2 separate regions of the Homo sapiens genome follow, and region 1 is linked to region 2. Evidence: fine-mapped expression QTL. Tissue or cell type: whole blood. Region 2 holds a variant in brackets; the other region holds the start of a gene. All regions are shown on one strand. Distances are from middle to middle.

The links. PIP is the estimated chance that this variant, and not a neighbour inherited with it, causes the effect.
Region 1: it holds the start of C2CD3, and the variant in region 2 is fine-mapped to the expression of C2CD3 in whole blood (TOPMed, PIP above 0.99).

What each region holds. Positions count from the first base shown.
Region 1 is chr11:74,167,588-74,175,696 of GRCh38, reverse strand. C2CD3 (C2 domain containing 3 centriole elongation regulator) reads left to right here and starts at 4,695. Exons shown (of 33, transcript NM_001286577.2): 1 at 4,695-4,959; 2 at 7,084-7,353. The coding sequence starts at 4,905. It overlaps PPME1 (protein phosphatase methylesterase 1), which reads right to left and starts at 4,408. Exons shown (of 14, transcript NM_016147.3): 1 at 4,175-4,408. The coding sequence starts at 4,275. RefSeq lists enhancers at 3,614-4,536, 4,314-4,763, 4,537-5,460.
Region 2 is chr11:74,085,429-74,093,537 of GRCh38, reverse strand. It overlaps C2CD3 (C2 domain containing 3 centriole elongation regulator), which reads left to right. Exons shown (of 33, transcript NM_001286577.2): 19 at 950-1,122; 20 at 2,602-2,725; 21 at 7,652-7,920. Among named protein-coding and RNA genes, the nearest start is that of UCP3, 80 kb to the right of the region's middle. The variant C/G (reference allele first, on the strand shown) is at 3,211.

The sequences.
Region 1 (8,109 bases), 82 kb before region 2:
AGTCCTACCTACTCAAGAGGATGAAGTGGGAAGACTGCTTGAGCCCACGAGTTTGAGGTTGTAATGCACCAAGATTATGCCTGTGAAAAGCCACTGTACTTCAGCCTGGGCAACACAGCAAGACTCTATCTCTTGCAAAAGAAAAAAAAAGGAATTTAAGAGATAATAATAGAAAAGTAGAACTTTTTTTTTTTTGAGATGGAGTTTCGCTCTTGTTGCCCTGGCTGGAGTGCAATGGCGCGATCTCGGCTCACCACAACCTCCGCCTCCCAGGTTCAAGTGATTCTCCTGCCTCAGCCTCCTGAGTAGCTGGGATTACAGGCATGTGCCACCACGCCAGCTAATTTTGTATTTTTAGGAGAGACGGTGTTTTTCTATGTTGGTCAGGCTGGTCTTGAACTCCCGACCTCAGGTGATCCACCCGCCTCGGCCTCCCAAAGTGCTGAGATTACAGGCATGAGCCACCACACCTGGCCAAAAAGTACAACTACTGATAAACCAAAAACACGTTGAATAATGAATGGCTTTAATATTTTATAGTTCCTCTAATAGTAATAGTATATACGAAAGCAGTGACTTTCAAAAGATACTTCTCTCAAGCACACCAGGGGTGCAAAGCAAATAGGGATCTCAAATCTACTTTAGTCAGAGTAGCTCTAAAAGCTTTAATAAAGAAGTTCAAAACCACTGTTTTTGGCAACATCCATTGGCATCTATTAAAAGGAAGAGTGACACCAGGATTTCAGGCCTTACCCAAGAGAAAATATTAGTGTACTGAAAAGTGAATGGATTCTAGAGACTAAACTTAGATTGAATCCTAGCTCTGCTACCTACTAGTTGGGTTACTTTTAATCTCTGGGTCTGAATGTCTTTACCCACAATGCAGGAAAATATTCACCATGCAGGTCTGTGGACACATTAAATAACATAAAGTTACCATTACAATGTCTGGCACACAGTACTTACTTTAAAAATTGCTATTATTAAATTATCCAACAATACTTTGGAATTACTAAATCTAATCTGAAAAACTGAATTATGGAAACTCATGAAAAATCACCAACTCAGAATATGCACCCTGAATATGCAAACATGCCTAAATAATGTTTAGTGAAATTGAAGGCAAGAGATCATGAAAAATAGTTAAGAGTAAGCCACACAAGAGACTATCAAGAGAACAGGACTAACTTGTGAGTAACATAGATAGAGTGGAAGAATGGAAGTTAAGAAAAAAGCAAGTAAGCATAAGGAGACATAAAGAATGCTTTGAAATTGGTGTGAGACTTCATAAATTACGACTGAAGAAAAAGACTGAATCCTAGATTATATGCAAATGAGTAAGATACACAACTCAAAATAAGTATCCCCAGATGACAATTATGACTCCAAAATACACAATGGGTCTCACAGTCAAGAGACCCAAGTCCTAGTCCTTAACGGCCCTACCGCTAAGCTTCTAGGGTACCTTAGGAATATCTGAGTCTCAGTTCCCTCATTTATTAATACATTCCCTTATAGAATACAGAACTCTCTGAATATTGGGTTCCTCAACTACATGAAGTGGTGAAATGAGACCATGTCTATGCTTTCTCTCAGCTTTATGATTCTAAGGAGAAAGAGAATCTATATTATTACTACCATGAGACTTAGATGAAGCCTGCTTATATACCAATAAAGTAGAAAAGAAAGATACGGGAAAATAAGCCATTTGAGGACCACACAAATATTCGCCAATATATGCTCTTCTCTTCACAATACTATCATAAAGAAAGGCCTTTCTAAAGAACTTTCTTTTCCAGGATAAGCAGTTAACCTAAACCAAGAAGACCAAAGCATCTTTTTAAAAAGGTAAGTTGTCCAGGCACAGTAGCTCACTCCTATAATCCCAGTACTTTGGGAAGCCAAGTGGGGCAGATCACTTAAGGCCAGGAGTTTAAGACCAGCCTGGCCAACATGGCGAAATCCCCTCTCTACTAAAAATACAAAAATTAGCCGGGCGTGGTGGTGCATGCCTGTAATCCCAGCTACTTGGGAGGCTGAGGCACAAGAATCACTTGAGCCCGGGAGGTGGAAGTTGCAGTGAGCCGAGATTGTGCCACTGCACTCTAGCCTGGGCAACAGAGTGAGACTCTGTCTCTAAAAAAAAATAAAATGAAAAGTAATAAAAAATAAAAACGATAAATTACTAACAATTATACAATCTTCTAATCAGCAGATTTTCCTTTTTTTTTCTCTCAGTATCTTCATTCAGTTCTTCAATCTTCAGAGAACTTGTTTCTCCAAGATGAGAAGCTGAGCTCTAATTAAGCTTATCTAAGGAATGTATAATTATTAAAAATCTGATTTTCTTATGTATTTGTATAGAAGGGTGCTGGTATACTGAAAAATCAAATTTATTTTAAGAAAGGCAGCAACTAAGATATTTAACAACAATTAATGTTACATTAATATTAAACTCCAGGTTAGTTTTCCCAAATAATGTTATGGGTCAGTTTCCAAATTCTCTTTATTCATGTTATAGTCCAACTTTTCTGTCTTCCAAAGCCAAAACAATCTTCACTTTACCTTCTATGTAGCCTTCTACCTCTATTGTGCGTCTATCTCTCTATCTCCTCCTGCTAAAGTTTTCTCATTTTTCTACTGCGTATCATAGCAGGTCTCCACTCAATTCTTAGTTTCCTTCCCTGGTTTTTCCACCCATTTTTCCCATTCCTTTACCCCACTGTTTTATAGGATTCTCCTTTCTTTTCATCCCTAGGACTTACTGTCACAGTACTGCATCTCCTACTCTCGCCTCCTTTTTGATAAGTTTTTACACATATTACTTCTTCAGAACCTAAGGTTTCTCTTCTGTAGTCCTTTTTCAAAGAATATCTACCAATTCATCTCTAGAATCCCAAATATACTCTGGAGCCCTCATACCTAAGTATCTTTCCTACTCCTTTTCTCTTTACAGTCACTAATTCCCAGAATCCTGTTTGAAACTACAAATATCCCCTCAAAACCAAATGCCTATTCAATTCTCTCCACTTTCCAGCAATTACTTCTCCCATGTTCACCTCATTCTTTCTCCTCGGCCCAAGTATCCCCTAACCTGGCACAAGCCATTTAACGATCTAAAATTCCAAAACCTATCTCTTCTACATGGCTCTCCTTCCTTTCCAGCAAACTATTTCTCGAACTCCCAATGCTTCACTAATTCAAAGTCTTAGGCCAGTACGTCGCTTCCCTCAGATCTACTAGCCCAGCAAAAACTGATTGCCCAAATCTTCCTCTAAGCTTCCCAGACCTTACAACTGCAGCACTTCCATTCACCAAACCGTATTTATAGTCATCTCTCAATCTTTAGAGCCTATGGTCACTCTGTAAATTCTTCAGTTCTCTCCTTCTTCTCTCTCCCTTATCCTGTCCAGCTTCTCACTCTGTAAATTCTTCAGTCCTCTCCTTCTTCTCTCTCCCTTATCCTGTCCAGCTTCTCAGCACATTCCTACTACCCTTAACAATCTTCGTGGCTATGTTCTCCACCTTACCTTAGGCCTACTCCCTAAACTTTCTCATTCTCCCTTAAGAGACCTAATCTCACCTCTCATTCGCTGAATCTGTCTTTACACCTCTGGGAATTCTCTAGAATCGTCTGCTTCCTAGTTCTCCTCTTTCCTTCTCCAGCCCTGTCTCGAGTGTTTTCTACCCCCCTCAGCTTTTCTAGTATCTAGTTCTCACAGTGCAGATATTAGAACTCTGATAATATCTACTCCTCCCAAACCTTTCCTTAGTTGTTGGCCCAATTCCCCTCAACTTTTCTCTCAGTCATTCCCCACTTCCCTCCACCTTCCCTGGCCGATTCTCCTCCACCTTTGTCACCGTTCTACTCCCTTTTCTAAGCCTCCTTTATTGTGGAAGTGATTCTCAGATCCCTTATGTTAGTCTCTCAGCTTCCCCAACCTTTGCCTCATTCCCCTCTCCCTTCAACAACGTTATTTTTCCTCCAATTTCTATTGACTTGGCGCCTCCCCTAGTACCCCAATCTGCCTTCTACTCCATCTAAATATCTCCAGGCCGCCAACATTTTCTCCTATCAGTAGACTCCTTTCCCGTGCCTCTATGAACGCCCAGAGATACCATTCTCCAACGGCTGGGGCCTGGCCCATAGGGAGAAGGGGTATGGGTCACGTACCCCATTCGCATCTTGGCTCCGCTCTGACTGCCCCCGCTGCCGGGTAGAGGTGGGCGAGAGGGAAGGCGGCCGAGGTGCATGCTCTTTTCGAGGGCCGACATCGAGGGGAGGCTGCACGCACGTAGTCAAACAGTAGGCGAAGCTTCGTCCCACGTTGAGTGTGGCCCAACCGGTCACGACTCGCTCCCCTAACGACGCCCTGTCGCCTTTGGACAGCACCCAGCTACCCGTAGCACCGCCTACCGCCCACCGGCTCCGTAAACTCCACCCACTCGCTTCAGCGCTTCCACCGGAAGTGCGCAACAGCACTCATACAAAGGAAGCTGGGTAACAGAGTATGAGAACTCCGCAGACTCCCGGCTGGGAACCCGACGACTTTCACCGGAAGGAGGAGCGCTCTTCAGGGCAATGCACCCTGCGCAATGGAGTCCACAAAGGGCGCATCCCTATGCGCTTGCGCAGCTGGAGGCGCCCCCCAGCCAACCCCGGAGAGGTATTGTAGCAAAGCGTCCTGGGTATTGTAGTGTATTGGAGGGAAGGCGTCTTGGCGCCTTCTCTTCGCACCGTTTTCCGGAGACTGTTAGAGGAAGAGTCGCTTTTTCCTGCCTCCCAGGCTGCCCAGCGGCGCCGGTTGCCGGGGAACGCAGGCGCCGTGGGGAGGGATGGCGGGAGGATACTGCTTAGGTGCTGGAGACGGAGTTGAGCTGGTGAAGAAGAGCTCGGGCTCATCATGAAACAACGAAAAGGCCAAGGGTCTGGGGGCAGCCGTGGGCGCAAAAAAAGAGGTAACCTGAGCGATCAAAGATTGAGGAAAGCGTAATAGGAGAGCAGGGTGTAAGGAATTTTAGGGAGACCCGCACCCCCGCTGGATAAACAAGAAAAGGGACGTAAGAAGGAAGTAGCCAGGGAACCAGAAGGTTAAAAGGAAGGGCAATTGGCCCTCCAGAGAATAGAAAGGAATTAGGGGCTGGGGTAGGGGCCACAGACAGGCGATTAATGAGATGAAGGTTACCGGTAGGATGACTGTAGAGGAGAAGAACAAACAATGATGGGATTGGTTTTGATAACGAAGTGAAATGTATGTGTGTGTGTAGCTTTCGAGGTCCACAGGGACAGGAAGAAACATAAATTGGCAAAGGGATTATATCATTTGTTGTGTGATTGTGGGCAAGAATCACGTTTTATACATTACTGAATGACCAAGGATTAGTACAAAGCAGGACTCGGTAAATGTTAGTTGAATGAATGAAGTATGAAGGGCTGACTATGAGCAGGAGTTGGGAAAAATAATTGTAGAGTATAGAGCCGGGAAGAGTGGGGAATGACAGGTGTGATAGGATTGGAGTGGGGGTAAGGGCATGACGATCTCCTGAAGGACCTGAGATCATGAAAGAGTGTGCAGCAGAGAGTCCTCATCAGGTTAGCAGCTCAAGGAGACACAAGCTCACCGAGTAGGGGATGTTAGCTGCAGTGAGAACAGTCAACCTAGGAACCCAGGGCAGATCAGGAAACTTGACATTGAATCTCTACAAGACTGCCTCGAAGGGAAAAAGGACAGTGGGTGACCCTGCCTTTTTGCATTGTAGGCAGTTTAGCGAGAAAAGAAGTATTGGGAACAGTGATAGGACATTAGGCCATTGGGTTGAGGACTGAAGCTACAATCTGGGAATTACTCTTATCCAAGCTGTTTAAAGATTACTAAGGCAGTTTTGAGATACTGACTTTCCTGCCAGGAAAGATAGGAGGATCTGAGACTGAAGCATACTAGTGCTCCCTGTGTCAAAACAGTTAAGCATGTTTGGTTGATAATCGGAAAGTCAAAGTAGAAATAATATAACATAGCATAGAACAGAATACACTTTTTGCTATACCATTTCCATATGTAGAAATGTATACACAACTGTGTATAATTTTTATGTTGAAACTATCCATAAGGATTATGGTGGGTCTTTTCTCCACTATAGAGGGCAGAGGCGGTGTTTGCATTAGAAGTCCAAATAATTAGTCCTGATCTGATACATTCCATATATTTTCTTCTTTGAGGCATAACCACTCCTCAAAGAAAAGTCAAAGGAAAAAAAAGGTATAAATAATATAGGAATGGTTTCTTAAATCTCCTTTAAGTTTTCCCGAAAAGGTACTATGAATGAAAGACAATCAGGGTCATTAAAGGAAAATTTTTTAGAAAGTCATGATTAATTGCTTTGTTTACACTTTAATGTCTTTATGAAACCCAATAAATACTAAAGCCAATAAATATATGAACCCAGCACTGTGTTAAAAATAGTGGCAGAATCTGAAGATTAGATAGTCTGTGTCCTCACTGACTGTGTGATCTTGGCAGGAAAGAAAAGTTACAATTTAAGACGTTCTTCATTGAAATGCTGAGTTGTATGATATAGTCTAAATCGTTTGTGAGTGAAGGGAGTTGTTGCTGTTTTATCGTTAGTGATTTTTTTAAAAGAGAGTTAGATAAAGATTACATATCTTAAAAACCATAGATGTTGCAATAATTAAAACAACTGTACTTAGAAAAATTTCAACCATACTTAGAAAAATGTCAACTACTTCTGATATTTGTATTTTTCAAATAGTAACTCAACTAAAGAAAAGTTTATATTAGTGTGTCTTTGTTGGTATGTTCTTAACTTAGAGTAAATCAAATCAAACCTTAAATACTAATTAGTTATCAGAGTGGCTTACATGACCAGATAGATTATTCGGTGGTCTGATTTGATAGTTACTTCTCATGTATTAGAATAATGGGTAGGATAAACCTTCTTTCTAAGTGGTGATAAATTGCTGAACTTAAGACTAAAGTGTTCTGTTTGTTTTCATTCAAAAAGCATATTATATGTTTTCTATATTTAGTCTAAATTTTGACTCAGTTTTCTTGGATTCCTCTACAGGTTTAAGTGACATTTCTCCATCTACAAGCCTGCCACCTCTGGTTGAAGGCCAGCTACGCTGTTTTCTAAAACTTACTGTTAATAGAGTCATATGGAAGATTGCAAAGCCTCCCACTTGTGTACTTGTCCGAGTGAGATGGTGGGGAGAAACATCAGATGGAACCCTCTTTTGTCCCAGGGATGCATTGCAGACTGAACCAAAAGCTGTGAGAACAACTACACGTTACGCTATTCGTTGTGGTCCAAAACAGTTTACCTCTTATCTAACAGGTATGTTATTGTTTTATCATTGCACCTGCAGACGTAATACAAAGCATGTGGTTATATTGTCAGCAATAAGTGTTGTTGTGTACCTAGCATATATGGGCATTCTTAATTATTGAAGAGTCAAAGAGTTTTTATAGTAGACATTTTTCTTTGTAAATTTATTGAGTGTTACTGTGTGCCAGCAGTTTTGAAATGTATTACTTCTAATCCTTACAATAACCCTGAAAGATAGGTATTTTCTCTGTTTTATAGACAATTAAACAAGTTGGAGAGATGAAATGAATACTTTCTAAGGTCACAAAGTTGATAAATGGCTGAATTAGGATTTGAACCCACTTCTGTCTGTCACCAAAACTCATGCTCTTTTCACTACACCATGCTTTTTTAGGTAATAACTGTAGTCTCAACTCTGGGGTTTACATTATACTCAAGGAAAGAGGATATAGATGTAAAATTTACCAATAGTACAAGATAATACATACTAAATGCTAAATGAATGGTTTAGTGAGTTAGTATTACAGATGTTCAGAAATGGAAAGCATCCCTCTGTAGGGAACCAGAAGCCAAGATGTCTTCATTTTTGTACAAGAAAAGTATTCTGAGTGTACTATGTTACTTCTTTATTCAGGTCAAGCTTTCACATAAATACATTTTGGATGATGGGGTTATTTATCAAGTCAATTCAGTTCAAGTCAATAAAATTCGAGCATTTATCATGTAAACATGGTTGGGCTCAGAATATTGGAGAGCCAGGGGTGA
Region 2 (8,109 bases):
AATCACCTTTTTTGTGCGTCCCTTACTGCCTTATTTAGTTCAGGCCCTTTTCATATCTTGCCTAAATGACTGTGGTAGCCTCCTAACTGGCCTCCTACTTATAAACTCATTTCTTGTAACCTGTTCTTCCCACCACCAGAGGAACATTTATATTTATTTTATAAATATAATTTAATAATATAATTTATATATAACAAATATATAAATTATTATATTTGATTTATATTATAAAATATAAATCCACTCAATGTTACAGACATTGGAAGATTTCCAGGAAAATACTGGCATAAATACGGATGTTCAACCCACCCCTTTACATCTGCACCACCGACAAACCAACTAAAGTGCTTAAGAGAGTATAAATATAAGAGGAAAGGAAACAGCATCAGGAACAGAACTAGGGATGAGTACCATCCACATGCGAGAACACTTTCCTAAATACAATTAATTGTCAGTCAAGTACAAAAAAGATTTTTAAAACCACCTAGGTTTGAGTTACAACTTTGCAATCTAAGAATGGATTGTTTTGACATAAGAAGGAAATAGAGTAGGTACTGACAGATCCTCATTACCCTGGTAAATTAGAGGGGCTTCAGCATGAAGATGAGAGTAAGCCATGAAAGATATTGGGCCTACTCCACTTTGAACCACTTTTGCTGCTGCAAGATGGAAGCTTTCAGGAGTGGCCACCCCCGACAGGTTCAAGGCATGTACAGTTACCGCACAGAAAACTTGAGGGAAGCTAGGCTTTGTCCTGAACTCGGTATAATTTATGGAGTTCCTCCTCCACATAATGAGTGGTAAATTTAGCCAGACACCATAGCTGCGTACTACCAACACAGAACAATCAGGCACCAAAGATAACCAGGTAGTGAAGGCTGATCTGTGGGGCAGACTGAATCATTTATCACCTAATTCTTCTGACAACGTGTGCTTTTGTGGTTTACAGATACTATTATCCTAATGTGAGAGACCAGAAGGTCGCCAAAGGAACCTTGCCATTATCAAGGATCTGTGCTATGGTAACCACCCAGCATCGTGAGGATGTGGGAATACAGACCTTTAATCTCCCTTTAACCCCCAGGATTGAGAACAGGAAAGAATTGAGGAACCAGTCATCAGGTAATTGAAAACAAGTTTGTCTTTTTCTTTCAAAATCAGTATACATAAAAATATATAAAATAGCCGGGTGCGGTGGTTCACACCTCTAATCCCAGCACTTTGGGAAGCCAAGGCGGGTGGATCACCTGAGGTCAGGAGTTCGAGACCAGCCTGACCAACATGGAGAAACCCCGTCTCTACCAAAAATACAAAAAAATTAGCCAGGCATGGTGGCCCATGCTTGTAATCCCAGCTACTTGGGAGGCTGAGGCAGAAGAATTGCTTGAACCCAGGAGGCAGAGGTTGCAGTGAGCCAAGATCAAGCCATTGTACTCCAGCCTGGGCAACAAAAGCGAAACTCGTCTCAAAAAAAAAATATATATATATATACACACACACACACATATATATATATAAAATATACAGTATACATAAACATCCCTTTTCTCTCTAAATTAGTGATTCTCCACATTTTGAGGGATTTGCCCTTTTGAGGATCTGATGAAAACTGTAAGACACCTTGTCTTGGAAAAAATGAGTATAGAATATACACTGCCAATTTTGTATACAATTCTAGAAAACTCATAGCTCCATGGAGTCTATGTAAATGTTGCTTGTCTCATTTCACCTTTAACTTCAGCAAGCATTTTATAAGCCCTCATGCCATAAATTCTAAGCATTATATGGTACACTCAGAGAATTGTTATTCCAAGCCAACATGAGCAGATAGGGGATTGGTAGAAGATAGCATGAACCAGGAATTCACTGTAAGGGAGGAGAAGGCTAGGGTTTAAAGTTAGGAGAGGATTAATTCGAATTTGGAGATTTGAATGATATTACATCCTAATGCTTCCAGCAGGATGGTGTACCCTCTAAATTTATCATCAGATAACGAAGTTTAGCCTCCTATATCAAGTTGCTGTACATGCTTGCTAAAGAGTATCTGCCAAAACAATAGGTTTTATGTCACCATAATTAAGATTGAGTTGTTTCTCCTGACCCTCCCTGATCAGCTTATTCTGTTATTCCATAAAGCTGTCCCTGAAATGTGACAGTAGGATGATAGAGGTTTTATAAAAAGGTAGCATGAGAAGGATATTTCAGGTGGTGATGGTAGGAGGGTGATAGAAGTATGTGAGGTGTGGAAACCGTTTGAAAGTTTAAAAAGAAAATGGCTAGAGCCCATCTCAATTCTATAAACATAATTGGGGGTAAAAAGAAATCTGGAGTTAAGTTCTGCCTTCAGTAGTTGTGTAATCTTGGCAAGGAATTAAATCTCTGAACCATAATTTCTTGAATGTAAAGTAAATTAGTAACCTGTTAAACCTTTATTAACCTTAAAGAATAACAATGTGATTATGACAAGGACAGATTCTCTCATTGCCCTTATTGTTCGTTGTAGTGTTAATCCTCTTCCATCCTTCCTGACCAAAACTTTGTGGTTTGGTGGAACAGAGATTCTTCTGACCAACCTTCTTTCCTTGTGTCCTCATTCTTCAGGTTTACTGGATGTGGGCCTAAGGTACAGGCGTAGTCCAAGAACAGCAGAGGGAGTTCTTGCTGCCCGAACTGTTTCCATCTCAGTCCAGATTATCAGAGCCTGTGGTCTGCAAGCAGCAGCCAAGTAAGTCCACCTGAGACAAGCAATTCTCAAGCCTTTTACACTGCAATCATTGTAAAATAATGCTCAGATATGCAAAACTTTCTTAGGTATAATTTCCAGTTCACTAACCACAACTCCTCTTTTTCTGTTAATAAAGCATTTCAGAATATGAGTAAATCACTTGCAAACGTTGCTATTTTAACTGTTAGCAACTTACCTCCTTGACCTTGCCCAACAATTTTATCCTGTGCCTTTCTTAACAACTTAGTCTTATGGCCATACCCTACACCATCAAACCATGCCATACCCAATCACTGCAACTCCTGTGTAATCTCACTTCATTCCTTTCAGTCTCTGAGTACTACCTCCTATTTTTCCAGCTTGCACCCCTTTAGTCTGTTCTCAACATAGTAGCCAGTGAACCTATGAACACTTAAGTCTAGCTTTGTCGCCCAGGCTAGAGTGCAGTGGCGGGATCCTCATTACTGTGTTGGTCAGGCTGATCT[C/G]GAACTCCTGACCTCAAGTGATCCACCCGCCTCAGCCTCCCAAAGTGCTGGGATTACAGGCGTGAGCCAGTGCACCTGGCCTATGTTTGATCTTATTCAGAGTAAAAACCAGAGCCCTTAAAATGGCTATGAGACCCCATATGATCTAAACCACGTGCCCCACCCCCCATCTATCTTTGTGATCTCATCTCCTGCTAGTCTGCCCTCTGCTTACTCCACTCCAGCCACAACCCCCATGTTGCTTCTGAACACACCAAGCATATTTTCCTCTCAAGGCCTTTGTCTTGCTGTTTTCTCTGCCTGGAACACTATTTCTCTAGAAAAACAGCACAGCCCTTTCCCTTACCTCCTTCAGGTCTTCACTCATACTTCTCTCTGCCTTGAATATTCTTCTTCCTTTTGTCTACTTAACAAACTCCTATTTTCCTTCAAGACTTTGCAACATCTTTACAGTCTCTCTTTATTTCTTTGTACGTGTAGGCAGAGTTGGTGGTTTTTCCTTTGTTAACACCTTGGTTGTAGCACATATTCTGTTTCAATTATTGGCATACATGCATTTTTCTCCCACTAGGCTGTGAGTTCCTCTAGTCAGAGATACTGCCTGAGCTCCTCTCCATCCTTCTAACCTCCTAGCATAGTTCTAGCATATAACAGGCACCCAGTAAGAAAGAGAACTAGATCAGGCTCCTGCTTCAGACTGACACCCTTTGAACAAAGAAACAGACAAGTGCTCCCTAACTTTTTCCCTGTTGTAGCTGAGGGTCAAACTGTTCACCTATAACTTTATGGTCTCCAAATAAGAAATTGCATTATTGTGTGAGATCTGATGCTGAAGAGCTAAGATACTCAGTGTAGTTAATATTGTTCCTCACTAAATTCTCCACGTAGACTCTTTCAGTTACTGCCCAAGAACATCTTAGTGTTAGTGAAGGTGATGTCAAGACAGGTTGGTTTTGGGTTTTGTTTTTATGTTTGTTTTGGTTTTTGGTGTGTTTCGTTTGTTTGTTTGTTTAATTTCAACTTTTTATTTTAGATACAGGGGTACATGTGCAGATTTGTTATATGGGTATGTCGCATGATGCTAAGGTTTAGGGTACAGATCCCATCACTGAGACAGTAAAGCAGTTTTATAATCATACCACTTCCTTACATTAAAACTTGATGATTTCCCATTGTTGATAGCAGTGATCTCATAATTTTAATTATGCATTCCTATTAATAAAAAAGGTAGCATACCCTTTAAATATGTACATATTTACTCATGTATAAATCATCTTCATGTACTGCTATACTCATATACAAAATATATTCTAAGATATACCATGGAATAGAAAAACTTTAATATATGAGATAACCAATATAGTTTATCCTATGAACCTCCTAAGTTGTATACAGCCTTCTTTAGGGATCATTGGTCCATATAATAAGGTCCAACTTCCTTAGCTTGGCATTCAAGCCCCTTCAAAATAAATCTGAGTCTTAAAAGAAGAATAGTAGTTATCAAGATACCCAAAAGGGGTGAAAATTATTTTGGTGAAAGAGAAGAACATGTGCAAAGGCAGGGAGGCATGAAACTTGTGTTTTTGGAGTACCTCCTCAGTCTCAGATCCAGCCAACATCAGAATTCTTCAATATGGCATTAAATTAACTAGCATTTAATTGGCAGAGAAGGACTCAGAATTTAGATACTCAGTAGATCTCAGAGAGGGCAGATAACAAGTCGGAAACTCAGTAGTTGCTCTGTCTGAGGACTCATGAGGAAAGTCAGATTGGATGACAGGCAGTTTGTTCTAAATCTCCCATTTGGTCTGTGTCATATATTCAAGGAGGGAGAACAAGAAGCCAGGCCAGTTCTGACACAACACTCTTCTGGTAGGTTGGGAGAGGTTCACAGGATGTGAGACAATGCATGGTATAATGGACACAGAACTGTTCTAGAAATCAGACACTATAGCTTCTAGTCTCACCCCCATCTCCTACTAGCTGTGTATGATTTGGGGCTGATTTCTTTACTTCCATGAGCTTCGGTTTCTTCATCTGAAATGGAAATTTTAAATACCTACCCTGATTTTGTAGGGATCAGTGTAAAAATTAACAAATATGAAGTCATTTTATAAACTACAAACTATTGTACAAATATACAGATTTTTATGATTACTTCCACTTGTATAGATAATTGTGACCTCTATTTGCCAGTAAAATCAGAGAAGTAAATTTTGCATTGCCTCTTACTGAAAAGAATTCTTGATGTTCTAAACTTACCCCTCTTGAATCCTTACGCTGGCATCTAGATAGCAGGTGCTGTAAATTAGTCTTCTCTCATCAAGAAACACCAGCCTCCATCTTACCTGCCAGTGGTCTTCCTGAAAATACATTGTTGGTGCCTATGTAAAGTAGGCACTTCTTACTGACTTGCTTCTTCTAACTCACCTGATCTTTAACTCAGAGTGAATAGAACCTTTCTTGGACATAGCCAGTAGTCTTTAAATGCCGTGAAGCTAAGGAATTGAGGCTACTTCACTACTATATATCCAGCTGAGCCCAAGGCATGACACACAGAGCAGATACCCAGCAAATAACGACTGAATGAGTGAATTCAAACCAGCTTGGGGCCCAAGCCTTTCTGCCATCTCACTGCCATCTCTGAAAGTTCCCTATTAAGAGTCCTTCACTGTCCATATGCAAGTTCTTTCTTTTGTATATATTATCTAATGTTATCTTTACAACACCCTATGAGTATTTTATCCTCATTTTTTTTTTTTCGAGATGGAGTTTCACTCTTGTCGCCCTGGCTAGAGTGCACTGGTGCGATCTCAGCTCACTGCAACCTCCGCCTCCTGGGTTCAAGCGATTCTCCTGACTCAGCCTCTGAGTAGCTGGGATTACAGGTGCCCGCCACCACGCCCGGCTAAGTTTTTGTATTTTTAGTAGAGATGGGGTTTCGTCATGTTGGGCAGGCTGGTCTCAAACTCTTGACCTCAGGTGATCCGTCCACCTCAGCCTCCCAAAGTGCTGGGATTACAGGCGCGAGCCACCGCACCCAGCCTATCCTCATTTTTTAAGCTACTGCTAGCATTCAATTTATTTTCACCCCATTTTTCCTAGGCATAATATATACTTCATGGTATACTATTGTATGGATGCACATTAATCTTCTGTTAATGATAAATCATCTATTAATGATCATTAACGATAATGAAAAGGAAAAAGTTTTTCTTTTTTTCTTAGAAATGAAATTGCAGTAAGCATCCAAATATATAATATACATCTTTAGTATTTATATACTATCTTATGTTAACCTCATCTTAGTGAAGAGGAAACTGAGACTTAAAGGAGGTTGAATAACTTATCCAGAGTCACATGGTAAGTAAATGGTGGAGCCAGCATTCAAACCCAGATCTGTATAACTCCAAATTACTACTCTCTATGAAGTACAGTAAGGTTTTAACAGGAAGGAACCCAGAAGTCTACTTTAGGGATATCAAGAAATGCTTCAAAAATAGGTGATTTCTTTGCCTAGATGTCAACTCTATCGCCTTGGGGAGTTTAGGGAAAGGGGGTTTGTCCCATACTGTAGCTACACCCAAATGACTTGACTACTCTTTATGAGTGTCGTTAAAGGCGTGTAGATTCCATTTATACATCATGGAACATCTGTGCTGAGAAAGATAAAAGCAGCCCCAGACTTCTGGGAATTGGGCCAAAATTCATAGGTAGGCTTTGGTGTTTTCTTGTTGACCATAAGTAATCTTACAGAACATCAGCATCAGACAAGATCACTGTATGACTATGATGAAGTGAGACAAAAACAAGACAGCTCCATCATCATGTCTAAGCACAGACCAAAACGAGGTCACTTATGCAAACCATAGAAACAGCCAACATCCTCCTGTCTGGCTAAAATGAGTGACAGCTGCTGCTTCACCAGTTATAGCTTTAGCTTTACTCTAGTATTCCCTCCGTCTAGATAAGATTCTTTAAGAAAATCAATCCAGAGCAAAGCCCTGCTCCTTTAAGCCCTCACTCAAGTCAGCTAACACAAGTCCAATGCTGATAAGCCCTTTCTGATACTTCTCACTGAGATGTACTATGGTTCCCCATGGTGTATATTTTCCTTAATTGCAATGAGCAGTAAACCCAGCTTGTTCAACTAGAGTTGGTTCCTGTGGTCCTTGACTTAAGAGCATTGACAGGACAGTGGGTCATCCTCAGAGTCACTCTGATGGGCAGATGTTATCCCCTCCACTCCCATATACATATGCCATGATATCTAGATTACTAAGAAAGCCCATTGTGGCACTGCCAAAAGCCTAGATAGAAAGCATATAGTTGGTTTTATTCTTGGTGGTCTCATAGAAGTAATGAAGTTATTTTCTAGAAAATCAAGCTGATTTCTAATGTTACCATGGTATCTTCTCATTTCCACCCTTCTCCTCTACAGGGCTTTGGCTGAACGGGAACCCGCTCTACAGTTTAGTGCCACAGTCGGGGTCAATGCCTCTGTCACCACTCATCTCTCCTTCCTGCCCCAGGGAGAACAGCGCCGAACCCACCCTGTGGCCTGTTCTTTCTGCCCTGAGTTCTCCCATCACGTTGAGTTCACATGTAACTTGGTGACTCAGCACTGTAGTGGAGAGGCCTGTTTCCTAGCAGAGTTGTTGGAGTTTGCAGAAGTTATTTTTGCTGTCTATCATGAAAATACCAAGTCAGGTGAGCACCATATGACTTGTCACAATCAAAATTAAAAGAGGCTGCATTGTGAATAGTATAGCCCTTCCTAGGAGATACATACTGCAGTATTTAAAGGTGAGGAGTCATAATCTCTGCAACTTATTTCTGAAAGATATAGCAAAAAATAAGGATATGTACTAAGTATGTAAGAGAAAGATAGTGTAGAGA